2 separate regions of the Homo sapiens genome follow, and region 2 is linked to region 1. A link means that fine-mapping ties the variant in region 1 to the expression of a gene that starts in the linked region. Tissue or cell type: unexposed skin. Region 1 holds a variant in brackets; the other region holds the start of a gene. All regions are shown on one strand. Distances are between the middles of the regions.

Region 1 (8,185 bases):
GATCATGGCTCACTGCAGTCTCCACCTCCTGGGCTCAAATGACCTTTCCGCCTAAGCCTCCTGAATAGCTGGGACCACAGGTGTGTGCCACCATGCCCAGCTAATTTTTAAATTTTTTGTGGAGAATAGTTCTTGCTTTGCTGTCCAGACTGGCTTGAATCCCTGGGCTCAAGCAATCCTCCCACCTTGACCTACAAAAGTGCTAGGATTACAGACGTGAGCTACTGCACCCAGTCCTTGTTGGGCCCCTAGATAGCTTTAGGATGGGAGCTGGTTGCCAGAGGAATTAACCATGTGATTAAAGGGTTGGAAATTTCAGCCCCATTCCTAGATCTCTGAGGAGGGGAGAGGGGCTGGAGATTGAGTTCAATTACCAATGGCCAAAATTTAATCAATCATGCCTACATGATGGAACCTCCATAAAACCCCTAAACAATACGATTCAGACAGTTTCAGGGTTGTAGAACACATCTACATGCTGAGAGGGAGGCACACCCCAATTCCACGGGGACAGAAGTTCCTGTGCTCAGGACTCTTCAAGATCTCTCCCTGTGTATCTCCTCAGCTGCCTGTTCATTTCTCTCCTTTAGTAATTAGCAGTGATAATAAATAAAGTCTTTTCCCAAGTTTTATCAACCATTCTAGCAAATTATAAAACCTGAGGAAGGGGTCATAGGAACCTGTGATTAATAGTCAGTTGGTCAGAAGTACTGATGGAAGCAAGATACTTGCAACTGGCATCTGAAACGAAGGCAGTTTTGTGGGAGTGAGTCTGCGGAATCTGACACGACTCCAGTTAGTTACTGTAGGAATTGAATTCAATTGTAGGATACCCAGTTGGTATCTGGAAGGTTGGAGAACTGGTTGTTGGCATGGAAACAACCCACACATTTGGTGCCAAAAGTATTATGAGTAAAAACAGCTTGGAATATTAAACTGACCCTCAAAGGAAAAAAAAAGCCAATAAAAGGATGCTATCTTGCCAGGACCTTCCAAGGAGCCTCAGAATTGTCTGTTAAGGGAAGGAAAAGGGGAACATTTGATTGACTCACTATCTCCTGTCCCAACCAGGCAAGGGGACTGTCCATGGGGCACTGATTCCCTCACACTTCCAGTGTGCACTCGCTTGAATGCCAGGTAGGTCTCTGCAGACATCCCACCTTATGCTATCCCAGGATAGGATAGTCCCAGGATAAAACATGAGAGTTAAACAGTTCAACTGGACCGAGCTCGATGGCTCACGCCTGTAATCCCAACACTTTGGGAGGTTGAGGTGGGAGGATCACTTGAGGCCAGGAGTTCAAGACCAAGCTGGGCAACATAGCGAGACCCTGTCTCTACAAAACAACAACAACAACAAAAACAAAAACAAACAAACAAACAAGAAAACCCAAAAACTAACTGGATGTGGTGGTGGTGCACGCTTGCAGTCTTAGCTACTCTGGAGGCTGAGGTGGGAGGATTGCTTGAGCCCAGGAGGCTGAGGTTGCAGACAGCCATGGTGGCACCATTGCCCTCCAGCCTGGGCAAGAGAGTGAGACCCTGTCTCAAAAATAAAAAGCAATAATAAATAAATAAATAAAACTGAGGAAAGTTGTTCTTGGGTGATAAGACATGAAGCTGTTTCCAACAGGAGTAATAACTAAACTAAAGACAGGCAAAAGGATGTGAGGCCAGGCACAGGAGATGGTCAACGTGGGGAGCTTCTAGAGACTCCAATCAGGTCTGTGAGTTCCAGTCCCCACTCCTAGCTCTAGTCACAGTCTTCACTTGAACACCCTACCTCCATTCTAAACCTTGATGGCTAGAGTTTGATTTTATTAAGAGAGCTTATCAAGAGGTTTCTTGTAATATACCATTTCTCCTTTGTCTACCATACTTTCTGCAAGTAACACATAGTTTTGGAAATTCAGGTCAGTTATTTAAAAAACAAAAATAGTAGCTAAGTACAGAGGGTTGTGTGGGAAGCACTTCAACTTCCAGACAACATAAGGCTAAGCGCTGTGACACATTTGAAAATAAGTCCTTATTTTTTATCTTTTAGAATGCAGTCATTTGGAGTCCTTCTCTACCGATGGCTGAAATTACTCATCTAAGGAGAGCCAAATCTGCTCCATCCAGAAATGAAACCCACATAACACTTTATCATCTTTCAGACTCTTGACATTAACATATTTTAAATATTTACCTTTTAGTTTTATATTTATTTTGACATTTTATTATATTGCCTGCATGTCCTTTCTGTTCATCTACAACTATATTTTCTTTTTTCCTTAGATCAGGGATTAGCAAATGATGATCCACTGCCTTGTTTTTGTATGATTTGCAAGATGAGAATGGTTTTCACATTTTAAGTGGTTTCTAGAATGTCAAAAAAGTAATATTTTGTGTTACATGAAAACTATGTGAAATTCAAATTTAAGCCCATCAGTAAAGTTTCATGGGAACATGGCCATGTTCATTCATTCACATACTTTGTATGGTTGCTTTTGCACTGCAAGGGAGATTTAAGTCATTGCAACAAAGACCATATGGCCCTAAAATCCTAAAATGTTCACAATCTGGCCCTTCACAGAAAAGTTTGCTGACCCCTGCCCTGAATGACAAAAGGATGCTTGTTTAGTTTCCTTCATGTATTACCTAGCCTTAGGGTTCCAGGCACTTGAAACTGCTTTCTAATGAAGATAATAATTCATATGTGTCACTAGAATTGGTTTTGACAAGGCCACTCAAAATCTATTAGATAGGAAATGGTTTTACTAAAGTTGTTTTATAATCTACAAATCAAGTACATAGTGTATGTAAAATAAATGTTTATCAGATAAATTAATGAGTGAATAACTCTGGCAAATCTGGTAGTGTGTGACCTCAGCAAGAAGCCAAGGAAAAGCATACTTGTTTCTGCCTCACATTTGCACAGAGCTTGATGACACATACTTCAAAAAGCATATTCTTATCTGAGATTACAAAGTCTTTCACAATGACTGTATAGGAGATAAAGTGGAGGGAAAAACACCCTCTTCCTAGAGGGAGTATCATAGAATAACAGAACTGGAAGGGAAACATTTCATGCAGCTGCTGACTTTAAGCAGGACTACGCTGGAATCATTCCCAAAAGATAAGTTTGCTCTTTAATAGTAATAATTAGGCCAGGTGCAGTGGCTCATGCCTGTAATCCCAGCACTTTGGGAGGCTGAGGTGGGTGGATCATCTGAGGTCAGGGGTTCAAGACTAGCCTGGCCAACATGGTAAAGCCCCCGTTCTACTAAAAATACAAAAATTAGCTGGGCGTGGTGGTGTGCACCTGTAGTCCCAGCTACTTGGGAGGCTGAGGCAGGAGAATAGCTTGAACCCCAGGAGGTGGAGGTTGCAGTGAGCCGAGATCATGACACTGCACTCCAGCCTGGGTGACAGAGTGAGACTCCATCTCAAAAAACAAAACAAAACAAAACAAACAAACAAAAACTTAATAATTATCCAGAGACACAACTTCCTGGGCTTAGATATTTCAGAATATCACAACTAAACTCTTAAAAATTTCTGAAGGCTGGACACCGTGGCTCACACCTATAATCCCAGCACTTTGGGAGGCTGAGGCAGGTAGATTGCCTGAGCTCAGGAGTTCAAAACCAGCCTGGGCAACATGGCGTAACCTCGTCTCTACAAAAAATGCAAACATTTGCTGGGCTTGGTGATGTGTGCCTGCAGTCCCAGCTACTTGGGAGGCTGAGGCAGGAGAATCGCTAGAACCCATGAGGTGTAGGCTGCAGTGAGTCATGTTTGCACCACTGCAGTCCAGCCTGGGTGACAGTGTGTATTAGTTTGTTTTCATGCTGCTGATAAAGACATACCTGAAACTGGGAACAGAAAGAGGTCTAATTGGACTTACAGTTCCACATGACTGGGGAGGCCTCAGAATCA[C/T]GGTGAGAGGTGAAAGGCACTTCTTACATTGGCAACAAGAGAAAAATGAGGAAGAAGCAAAAGCAGAAACCCCTGATAAGCCCATCAGATCTCATGAGACTTATTCACTATCACAAGAATAGCACAGGAAAAATCAGCCCCCATGATTCAATTACCTCCCACTAAGTCCCTCCTACAACGTGTCGGAATTCTGGGAGATACAACTCGAATTGAGATTTCAGTGGGGACACAGCCAAACCATATCAGAGCGAGACCCCATCTCAAAAGAAAGAAAGAAAGAAAGAAAGAAAGAAAAAAGAAAGAAAGAAAGAAAGAAAGAAAGAAAGAAAGAAAGAAAAAAGTTCTTCTTGCTCTTCAGCTTAATTCTTCATGCAGTAGTATAAGAATACTTTTAAAACCATTCATTCAATAACTTTATACACAGCATTTGCCTTAAAGTTTGATAGTTATGTCTCCTTTCTCCTAGTCATCTTATTCTCAGTTTGAGGGGTAGTGTTTGACATATTTTTGTATGTTTAAAAGTTACCACCATCACTACTATCCCCAGTACTCACTAGAATGGGAATTAATACATTGTGATAGTAAGAATATTAAACTTTGTTTAATCCATTTAGGCTGCTATAACTAAATACAATAAACTGACCTATTTATAACTGAGTACATAACTGGGTACTGTAAATAACAGTTGGTTTTTTTTTTTCTCACAGTCTAGAGGTAGGGAGTCCAAGATCAAGGTGCTGGCAGATTCAGTGGGTGTCTGGTGAGAGCCTGCTTTCTCATAGATGGCACCTAATCACCTCTCAAAGACACCAACTCTTAATACTATCACATTGGACATCAGGTTTCAACACATGAATTTTTGGGAGACACAAACATTCAGACCATATTAGACTTGGGGTCTGATGTGGTTTGGCTCTGTGTCCCCACTCAAATCTCATCTCGCATGGTAATCCCTACATGTGGAGGGAGGTGTACCTGGTGGGAGGTGTTTGGATCACGGGGGCAGTTTCCCCCATGCTGTTCTCAAGATAGTGAAGGAGTTATCACGAGATCTGATGGTTTTAAAGGTGACAGTTTTTTCTGCACTCACTCTCCTGCTGCCTTCTGAAGAAGGTGACTGCTTCCCCTTCTGCCATGATCATAAGTTTCCTGAGGCTTCTCCAGCCATGGGGAACTGTGAGTCAATGAAAATTCTTTCTTCATAAATTACCCAGTCTCAGATATTATTTTTATAGCAGTGTGAGAACGGACTAATACAGAGTCTAAAAGTCAAGATATGAGTTCTGGCTTGAGATGGTGCCTGCCATCTAATGGATGCTTGGTGAGTATTAGTAACTTTTGGTCTTGTTTTCTGTGAACCTGGATGATTTACTGACTATTTCTGAACTTCATCTATGACATGTGAGAAGAAAATACTTTCTGAGTTGATATGGATATCAAATGATGTTTCTGAAAATGCTCACTAACCTAGGAAGCATTATATAATTTCAAATTATTGTGACAAAATAAGAATTCAAAAATACAAGAAAAGTGTCTGCAAATGGCAATATAAATTAAAAGGTCAGTCAATTATCTTTGGCCCCTGTCCTCTCCCTGCCCACCACTAGATTTAAGAGAGAGAAGATCCTTACTCTTGACTCAATAAACACAGAGCTTGGAGTCTATGCTGGAGGCCAGCCTGTTTCATTCAGGTCAATATGTAACTTCAGCAGGAACCAGGGACCCCCAGTTAATTCCAAATGAGGATTCTGACTGAGCTGGAAAGTGCACTGGAGCTTTTTAAAACAGGTGCACAGAAATTTTATTTTTCTAAAAATGTGCTTTATTAGAAGTGATGATTTATTATGTCAATCATATATTACAAATTACTTTGCCCAATGATATAAGCAAAACACATAGATTTTTCTAAACAGGCTTATTTGATCAGAGGTTAAGAGAACAGCCCAGCTCTGGCTGTTTTATACTAGAATATAAAGACCTAGGGGGAAAACCCACTTAAATAGGTATTAATTATTGCAAATCTCTCAAAAAAAAAAGCACTTGGTTTTAACCATTATTAATACATTTTAGCCCATGTTTTTCATAAAGGGGCCATGGTTTTGTTTTAGATTTAAATTTAAGACTTTGTTTTATTTCTGTTTATCTTGAGTTTGAGGGCAATATTTTGGCTGGTCTGTAAAGGTTTTTGTCCCAACTACTCAATATGCTATGGTAGGGTGAAAGCAGCCACGAACAATATGTAAATGAATGGGCATGGCTGTGTTCCAAAGAAACTTTACTTACAAAACAAATGTCCAGTCTGCAGACTCTAGTCTTCTGACTCCCATTCTATACCAATAAGTAAAGATCACAGGAGCCCCTTACATTTACACAGAAGTGTAAGCAGTACACAATAGTCCTGTCTCAGAGCTATGCCAAGTCTCTAGCTCTCAGTCTTAATCTAGCCCTTAGGAACTTTGATAGTCCTGTCATCCTGTAGGGCTTCACACTGGCCCACTACATTAGTGACATAATGATGACTGGACCAAGTGAGAGGAATTCACATTCTTATATATATATATATTTCACACATATATATTTATATGTGTGATAGAAGGTGGAAAATAATCTCCCAACAAACTTCAGGGCCTGCCAACTTGGTAAACTGTCTAGGAATCTAATGGTTCGAGACATGTCAAGATGTTATCTCAGGGAAAAACTAAATTTCTGCAACTTGCATCCCCTATCAATAAGAACAACCCCAAACTCATGCTATATACAGTCTCAAAAAATTACCTGACTACCCTTGAGGGAAATAAGTCATATATGATTTGTTGGTACTCAGCACTATTTCTATTTCCTTTGATACTCACCCCTTCATGTCAGGGGCTGATGAATGAGAACTGTCTTTTCATAGTCCCTGTAAACCAAATACAGTTTAGATTCTGCCCATGAGGTGTACTTGTGCTTAAATTACAAGGCAGAAGACAGAATCCATTCCTCTTTCTTCAATTGTGTTGGTTGACATGTGGACTTAAGAAGATGTAACTATTTTTTTTGGGGGGGGGACAGGGTCTCACTCCATCACCCAGACTGGAGTGCAGTGGGACCACCATAGCTCACTGTGGACTCGACCTCCTAACCTCAAGCAATCGTACCACCTCAAGCCTCCCAAATTGCTGGGATTACAGATGTGAGCCATTGTACCCCGCCCGAAGTTGTGACTTTTTGCAGCAACTTCTATATTCCCTTGTGTCGTTCACCCCAGGACTTCAGGGCAATCATGACTATTGATTTCAGTCTCTTACATCCTCCTGACTTCTGCATGAAAGCAAGAAGTTTCAGATTCTTTGGACTGTGAATGTGAAAGCTGGTGGCAGCTCCTCCGACTTTCATTCCTTATGCCCTTGCAAAAATTTATAAGTACAGTACCTATACCTAATTCTCTGTAAATTAAAGCCTTTTATCTTTAAATATTTAAATTGACTTCCATTTTTCCGGCTGAGACTTGACTGCTTGCAAGAATGAGAAAATTCATTTTTGCATTTTTTATAATATTTAATATTTCTTGATGAAATGCAATAGGATAAATGGCTACATATTTTTAATACCATATTCTAATCATTTTATTTATCATAAAGCCCTTCATGACATCATTATATTTCTTATAATGGCACAGATCATTCCTGTTTGTGTCTAAACCTCAAGCAAACTAGTCCTCCTAAAGGATTAGTACACAGTATTAGCACTCACTACCATCTGGCTGTCTGTTACAAAGATATAAACAAGATATTAGTTGAGATAAACAATTCTTGTTGTTTTAATATCATACACAATTTGATTCTATGTCCTGGGGCCACTTGGGCATCATCTTTCGGTAAATAACCTCAGGAGTTTAGACAATAGTAAAATGTTGTAAAATAATTAGAAAGTGATATGTTTGCATATTTATTACATTTTTTAAATTAACAGCTTATGGAGATACAATTCATACACCACACAGATCATCCATTTAAAGTATACAGTTCAATAGTTTTTAGAATATTTATATAGAGTTTTGCAGCCATCACCACAATCTAATTTCAGAACATTTTCATCATTCCAAAGATAAAACCCCATAACCCTTAGCAGCCACACCCCTCTCCCAGCCCTAGGCAAACACCTATCTACTTTCTGTCCCTGTGGATTTGCTATACTGGACATTTCTAATTTCCCCACACCCTTGCCAGCATTTTTTATTGTCTGTCTTTTAAAATTATAGCCAACCTAGTGCCTGCCACTCGGT
Region 2 (8,185 bases), 44 kb before region 1:
CAAAAATATTTAGCATTCTGCTATATAAAATATAAACCCTATATTCCTAAATGAAATGGCAAAGATACAACCTTTGTAGTTCACCAGCCACAGTAATATGAGAGGGGTGATTCAGGGCAGAACCTGATGTTAAACATAACTGTACAATATTACTAATTACAGAGAAATTGTACCAATAAATATTTTGGTTGTGGACTGCTTTGTCATCTTTGCAAGTATTTTTAGTTGAAAGCAAGTGGTTGGGTAGTACACGTGGACATGGTTCTGATTTTTAAATACCTATTTTTACATTCTGGTCACTGGTTAGGTTTTCTAAACTCAATTCCTTAGAACTAGTAATTTGGAAAGGGTAAGCCACAAGAATGTTACGTTAAGAAGCCAAGGATCTAACTAGCTCAGCAACTCAGATCAGCACAAAACTCATTTGGAAACCTCCAAGTGCTAGCATTATCTAATGATGGACCCAGGCAGTCAGTAAATCGTTAAGAACAGGTATGAAAGTGAGCAAACTGCCCTAAAGCTATCTCCTGAAAAACAGCAAGAGATATCTGAACTTCCTTCTTTTATATTTAGATGGTTATTTTTTTGGTGGCCTCTCTTCAGATTCATCCCCTAAATTAAATTTGCTTCTTTCTACTTGGACTTAAATTTCAGATTTGAAATATACACACTTAGTTGCTACAAAATGCTCCCTGGCAGTTTACATTTTTTACAAAAGTTAGGAAAAATTTTACTGAAATTATAGCTTTAACTGATTTTTTAAAATCACTTTTAATCTTTTTTAAGGATCACCATGCAACGTAGATATATGAAGAGTTCGAGGGACGTGGCTCAATTCATCCACGAATTTTCTTTCGAAGGTTTTTGCAAAAAGTGCTCTCAACTACTTGGACTAGTGGTTAAAGATTAAAGAACTGTTATGACTAAGTCTTTCTTACAGAGGGATGTTTTAAAAGGAAAGAAACCGTCCCTTCCCGTTACTCTAAATGAGCAGCCTCTTGTTCTCGGCAGTCTGTCTGCACACAAGACCACTACTGACTTCAGTGGGAATTCTGCCCAAGAAGTGAGGAAGACAGGATAGGATTAAATTAGCGCTAAATCCACACCATTGTTCCAAGCCATTACCACTTGTACAGTTCTCCAATAACCTCCAAAGAATAGATATCTGAAGTTTGATGGTGGTTCTTAAATTGAATTAAAAGAATGACCACTCGAGCTCTGACAGGTGACACAGCATAGCTCTTCAAAAGTTGTGTCAAACTCACAGCCTAACGGATGGAGCCAGTTGGCCCTTATCACAATTCAAGATTGCATTGCAATGCAGCCCCCATCAGTGGCTGCAACAGCCACCCAGTGATTTCTCACAGCAATGAGCCTGCAAAGGGAAACTGAATAGGATTAAGCACTATTCGTTCCCCCACTGAAACCTGTTCAAAGCTTGAGAATTCTAAATCCTAGCCCCTGCAGCATAGAAACTGACTCAGTTTCCCTCAACTGCTAAGTCCAAGGTGAAATCTGACAGAACACCAACTGAAATGCTAATTCTCAACAGCGTTATAAAGAGACCAGATAAATAATGTATTCCGTTGAAAAAAACAATAAAAACGTAGGGTGGGGGAGGAAATAAAGACTGAAAAACTGAGGGGAAAACCGCGAAAGTCGTTTTTTTAAAACAGCTTAAATAACAGTAACAAGAGGAACAAGACGCCTGGCACACACATGCCATTTCAGAGGCAAGAAGTTCAAGAAACTGGGGAAAGATGTGATTCAGAAAAGCGAAAATATAGCCACAGCTCCTCTAGATTCCACCTTCTCTCCCATCCACCCAGGGATCTTAAAATTAAGGGCAGCTGTGGTGTTGATGGGGCAATTCAATGAAAGACTACCCGGGTCCGTAGGGAGGGCTCCATACGCAGACCCCTCCCCAAAATAATAGACTCTAGGCAGTAGTTCTTCTCACCAAACCTCATTTTATTTATACATATATATAAAAAAAAAAACTTGACCTCAGGGGAGGTGAGCGATCTAGAGAAGCATAACTGATGTCCCACCACAGACCTCAGGCTGCTGGGGGCAGCGTCTGCGCCTGGGGATGGCGTCCCCAGACGCCGACTTCAACCCTGTCGCGCTCCTTTAGGTTCTCCTCGCCCTTCCCCGCTGCTCACCTAAAAATGCTCCCAACCCTCGGCCCCCAGGCGCAGGAGGAGAAAAAACAAGCCATCTGTGGTGAGATGGCCTGGGTGTGGGAATTGTAAGGATCGGAGCACGAAACACGCGTCCCTCTCCGCAGCTCCCAGACGGCGCAGGCGGCAGCTGGGGGCGCGGACGCGAGCCTACAGCGGGCCCGACCCGCACCGCGCGTGGGGCTGGCGCGCCGCCCTCGCCCGGCTTCCCGCAGTCCCCACGCGCGCGGCCGGCCCGCGCTTCCCCTCCTAAAACCTTCCTCCTGAAGGGCGACGCCGCGGCCGACCCCCTCCCCGCGGGGGGGATGGAGCCGGATTTTTCCCGCTGTTGCTCCACGGGGCCCGGACGCGTGACCTGAGCCCACGGCACCCCGGGGGGGACGGCGTCCTCCCCGTGCCCCCGCCTTTCCTGGCTCCGCCGGGACGCGGCCCCGGTCCCCCGGAAGAGGGAAGAGGGGGACCGCGGGGAGCAGCGAAGCCGGGATCCGGCCCGGAGCAACAGGACCCGGACCCCCGGGCAAGAATCGGGTCGGGCAGAGACCGGGAAGGAAAGGAGAGAGGGAGCCGCAGAAAATCCCAAAGCCGGGCCCCCTCTCCCCGCCCCCCATCCCGGTGGGACCGTCCCGCCACCGCTTCCTGCCCGGAATCAGCTTCCCAGCTGCAGCCAGAGGAAAAATCTGAGCCGCCCCTGCAACCCCACACTGACCAGTCGCCCGGCCCGTGCAGCCCCGCACGCCTCCTTACCCCGACGCCGTACCTCAGGAGCTCGCTCGCCGCGGGACCCGTCCCTCTTCAGTCCCAGCCGCCGGCAGCCGCGCCTGCCTCCTCCCTCCGCTAGGTTTCAAATTGAAATTCCCTGACTGGGGCCGTCAGAGGACTCTGAGGGCCGGCCCCGCCCCCTCGCGGCGGAAGCCCCTCCCGCGACCCCGCCGGACGAGCCCCCGGCGCGGAAACCCCCGCGGGCGGTCCCGCCCCCGACGCCCAGGCCCCGCCCCTGCGCGGGCGGGGGACCTTTCCCGCGGGATTCGGCAAGCGCGGCCGCGGAGACCCGGGGGTGGAGGACGTCTTTCGCCCTCAGGGCAGCCCGGATGACAGCTAATGCGCCTGGGCAAGGCGTTCTCAACTGCGATTCCCGGCCTTAAATGTCCTCTCAACTTTTAAAAGTTATTTATTCAAAGTGCATTTGCTGACTAAACCTTCACTGAGCGCCTTCCTAGAGGTAAACACTGGAGCAGAGCCTGGAGATGCAGAATAAGGAAAACTGGGTCTCCCTCAGTCTAGAGTGGAAAAAGTGCTTTCACAGGAAGGGCATTGAAAAGGAACCATTTATTCTTCCTGTGGGAGGGACAGGAGGGGTTGGGGAAACCCCGTGGAGGAAAGGCCTCCCCAGAGTAAGTAGGATTTCTCTGGGCAGAGGCCTGGGAATCTGGATTGCAGAGCATGACCACGGGTGAAGAAGAGTCTGGAAAAAACCTAGTTTGGGGCTAAATTGTGGAAAGCCACAAGCACACACACGCTACCCTTCTGGTTCTTTTCTTTTGTACAATGAGGTCAATATGTTTCAGATTCAATATATTTCATCTTTTGAAGGTTTGCACGTCAAGCTGGTGTCAAACAACGTGTCCAGCTCACTGCCTCCAGCATCTGCCTCACACGCACCTCTTATCCCTTTTACTCCTCCCACTTTTATTGAGGTCTTTAGTGATTCCACCACAGCCAAAGTCGTCTCCCTTTCTTTCCTAAACAGAACCTTTTCCAAAATTAACAATGTCAAATGAAACCTCAGTAACAATACCTTCCAGTTAACAAAATACATTCACATATTTTATCATCATTTGATCCTCACAATCACCCTATGAAAAAGGCAGGCACGTTTGAGCTCCATTACATCAAAAAGATTTGGGAAGATAAATTATTTGCCAAGGTCCTTCTAGTAAATAATACAAATAATAATAGTTAAGGTTGATTGTGTGCTTTATGTGCTAGGCATTGTTCTAAGTCCCTTACATGTATTAATTTAATCACAATCCCATATGCTAAGTATACAAGTTAAATTTTATAAGGTGTGCTAAAACAGAGCAGAAATCTGATTAGACAGCAATTCTGGTAAAGGAGACCTGGGAATTTAATGAGAAAATACTATTATTTTCTCATAATAAGAAATATGCAGCAGATTTACAACGAAACTAATGAAACAAACTTCGGGATCTCTCATTTTCACAAGCCTTGAAACTAACTTTATAATTTTGTATTTCATTTTGTGTTTTTTAAAGAGTCCCTAAAGTCATATAAGCTTTTGGGCCCATAAAACATTGAACCACCCTGATGGAGCCCCCTTTAAAATGCTAGTGCAAAATAACATAAATATAGGCATAGTTAATAAAATATAATGCCCTTCTCATAAGAAAGGATATGCTTACTATACTCTGCGTTGAAGTACATGAATCACTCCTATATGCCACCTCTTAAGAAGAAATTTTTCCCTCCAAAAGAAAATATTGATAAGCTAAATTATAACCATAAATGGGTGACCTTGAAAATGTGGGAACCAGCAAGATTTAGCCTAAAGAGATGATTAAAGGTGATAAAAAGGTTGTCAAATGTATAAAGGCTATTGTGTGAAAGAAGAATTGAACTCTGTTTTTGGACACAGCCTTACATAGCCCTGGCATTTTAATGGAATGGAACAGATTCAGTGAGGACCTAGCAGGAACTGAGGGCAGAAAAATCAAGTCCCAGAAGCTATAAGGAAGTGAAGAAAACTGATGGAAGTGGCATCATAGAGATTTAGCAAACAACAGGTGGTAGTCCAGACAACCAGGGAAGTCTAACAAGAAGAGAAGAGGGGTTTGAACAGAAAGAAGGACAAAGTCCTGGAATAGGTGACATCCAAAGACTCAGGCAGGCGGAAGCACTGTCAGGACTACCAGGCTGCAGTTCAAGGGCAGAATGTTAATCCCCAGGAAAACACTCTAGGTAGAACAAGATTGGGTCTTCCTGCTAGACACACTGTAGTAACAGGCAAAGGACTGACACAGAGAACAAGAGAAGAATATAGGTACTAGTCCTGAGAGCTACCACATCCAAATTTACCATAATAGCCTCAATCCTGGGCACTATGTGCAAGCAAAGTTAGTCTGGAAGTATGGACTAGAAATGTACCCAGGACCTCCTTAGTGCCCTTACTTACCAACTCACCCCCATAGGCGTGGCCTCTGGAAGAGCTTGATCTCACTATATCCATGAGTCATCATTTTATCTTTGTGCCTTCTGTGTGCCAAGCCCAAACCAGGTTGGAGTGGCTCTGGGTTGAGGACCTGCCCTTCCTTTACGTGGTCCACAGGCAGCAAGACCTGAAAATGCCCTCTCCTACTATTTCTAAGGCATTCTCAAGCTTCATCGTGAATTCATGCAATCCCAGTTCCACTGCCACAGCAACAAACATATCACACAAATGACTGCAGGAGTCACTCTGTCACCTGGCCAACTTTGGCTCAGTTTCAACTGGACTACAAGACCCTGCTTTAGTGACTTAAAACAACCATTTTATTGCTTGTGGTTCTTTGGGGCAGGAATTCAAGCAATGCTCAGCTGGGAGGCTCAACTGTGGATAAAGGATCTAAGATGGCTTCACTCACATGTCTGGCAGTTGGTGCTGCCTGTCAACTGGGGCACCTAATTTCTCCTCCACATGGACTCTCATCCTCCAGACTCTTTCTCTCTCTCCCTCTCTCTCTGTTTCTCTCTCTCTCCCTCTGTCTCCCTTTGTTTTCTGCACGCGCTCCCTCCCTCCATCCTCTATGTGGCCTATCTAGTAGGATAACCCAGACTTCTTTACATGACACCCAGCTTCCAAGAGAACAAAAACAAATGCTGCAAGGCCTGCAAGGGCTTTGCCCAGAAGTCACACAGCATCACTTATGCTCCATTCTGTTGGTCAAAGCAAATCAGAGGGCCAGCCGCAATTCAAGGAGAGGGGTCATAGACTTTGCTTCTTGGTAGGAGGCGTGGAATGTCTGTACAGTGAGGGGGAAAATTGTTGACAGACATCTTGTAAGCAATTCACTACAGGCACCATGTTTTTCTAGTCTGGTATTCAAGTTGGCCCTCAAGCAACTCTTTATACAGATTTTTTATCAAAAGCATCACAGGACCTCCTTTCCATCTAAGACACACCAAGTGATGTCATCTTTGGAAAAGCCACTCCCAACTATGGCTAATAACAGGTATATGCATCTCAAGCCTGCCAAACTGAGGTATTCTCTCAATTGTAGTTGGAGTTTTGCCACACACACACACACACACACACACACACACACACCCTACTTAATTAGGCTCAATGACAGAGAAACAGGGATGGACTGGCTGATTCCCTTAAGCTGGAACAGAGTCTTCAGAGTTGCTCCTCATGACATCTCATAATCAATTGCTCCCTAGAGCTGAAAACAGAAATGGTACAGATCCAATAAAAGTCCCAGAAAAGCTACATTTGGAAAGCACATATGTATATTATTTTAGCGCGTGGTGGCACACACCTGTAATTCCAGCTACTCGGGAGGCTGAGGCAGGAGAATGGCTTCAACCCAGGAGGCAGAGGTTGCAGTGAGACAAGATGGCGCCACTGCACCCCAGCCTGGGCGTCAGAGCCAGACTCCCGCTCAAAAAAAAACAAAAAACAAAAAACAAAAAAACAAAGAGACATCAAAAGAGAAGGCTCCAGGCTCATTCATAGACATAGTCAAAGCAAAGAGGAGACTCTGAAAAGAGCCTAAAGGGCTCTTTAGATTCCTATTTTGCAGGGAATACGCAGAAGTCCTGCTATGGAAAATGATTGAGACAGAACACCAAACTTTAATAAAAGTGGACTGGCATGTGACCACCCCACTCCACTACATGCCTGCAGTCAGCAGACTGCCCACTTAATTAGATGTGGGGATGAGGAAGGTAAAATGACCTTTAAGCAGTGTCATTGGACTTTGCTGGACAGACAGAATTACCCCCACAATACCATAGACAACTTCTGATGTGGTGTGACAAGGCGAGCCAAATTCCTTGGGCCCACGCTGGGGAGCCTTGCCTGAGGAGCATAATTTGTAAGTGGTCTCAGCAAATGGTGGTAAAATCCATCAACAGCGACAATCAGAGCAGCAGAAGAGGCTGTTGAATTACAGTACCAGGGGGAAAATTAGAAGAGTAATCCCCTGGATTATATCCTTGAAATATTTACATAGCCCAGACTTGATTGGCTAGTTTGTAAAATAGCCCCCGGAAATAGTGGCGACAGTGGGATTGGAGCTGGAATGTTGCCGTTTCTAAGCAAACAAATTCCTCCCTTTGGAAAATGGACCATCTTAGAGAGTGGTCCTTCGTTTATTCAAAACAGATGTGTGGCGGAAGGTTGGTATTAGCAAAGTACCATTCTTCAGTTTAGTTTTGTGTGGTTTCCCAAGGCACACAAATGTGTTCTACTTATTAGAAAACACTTAGAAGGATAGGGGTTTTAAGGTTATATGTATGCTCTTACTGCTTATAATCCCACTCTCTCCAGAGGAAAACCTTCCAGGAGGGTGCAATAGCTGAGAAGAAGAACACACCCAGAAAATGAAAAAGGACGACTCAACCATAGGTTTTGCAAAGGCAGGGACTTCGCTTTCTGTACCATTGTATTTTAGTTCCAAGCACTGCAACTCATAAAGGGCTTCTTCAGTAAACATTTGTTGAAAGAGTGAACCTAATTGAAAATGAGTGAGGTACCTTCAATTTCCTACAATTTGATAGATCCGGTATTCGGAGGAAAATTCCCAGGGCATAACACCTAAAAATGATGAATGTAATTTTTTAAAGCATTTAAAAAATACATGGCTGAGCCTGGTAGAAAAGGTAAAGTAATTGTGAGAGGCTAGAATCTGTGAGGAAGAGCAAATCCCAAAAGATAAGCAGATGCTAAAGCAGGCACAGGCTCTGCACACATTGATAAGGCTGTGCCTTGTGCAAGAGCACCC

What was found. PIP is the estimated chance that this variant, and not a neighbour inherited with it, causes the effect.
Region 2: it holds the start of EPB41L2, and the variant in region 1 is fine-mapped to the expression of EPB41L2 in unexposed skin (GTEx, PIP 0.95).

What each region holds. Positions count from the first base shown.
Region 1 is chr6:131,104,391-131,112,575 of GRCh38, forward strand. All of the region lies in intron 2 of LOC102723445 (a long non-coding RNA gene), which reads right to left. Among named protein-coding and RNA genes, the nearest start is that of AKAP7, 27 kb to the right of the region's middle. RefSeq lists an enhancer at 676-845. The variant C/T (reference allele first, on the strand shown) is at 3,922.
Region 2 is chr6:131,060,215-131,068,399 of GRCh38, forward strand. EPB41L2 (erythrocyte membrane protein band 4.1 like 2) reads right to left here and starts at 3,031. Exons shown (of 20, transcript NM_001431.4): 1 at 2,941-3,031. It overlaps LOC105378004 (a long non-coding RNA gene), which reads left to right and starts at 3,189. Exons shown (of 3, transcript XR_942993.3): 1 at 3,189-3,402. RefSeq lists silencers at 2,488-2,587, 2,928-3,267.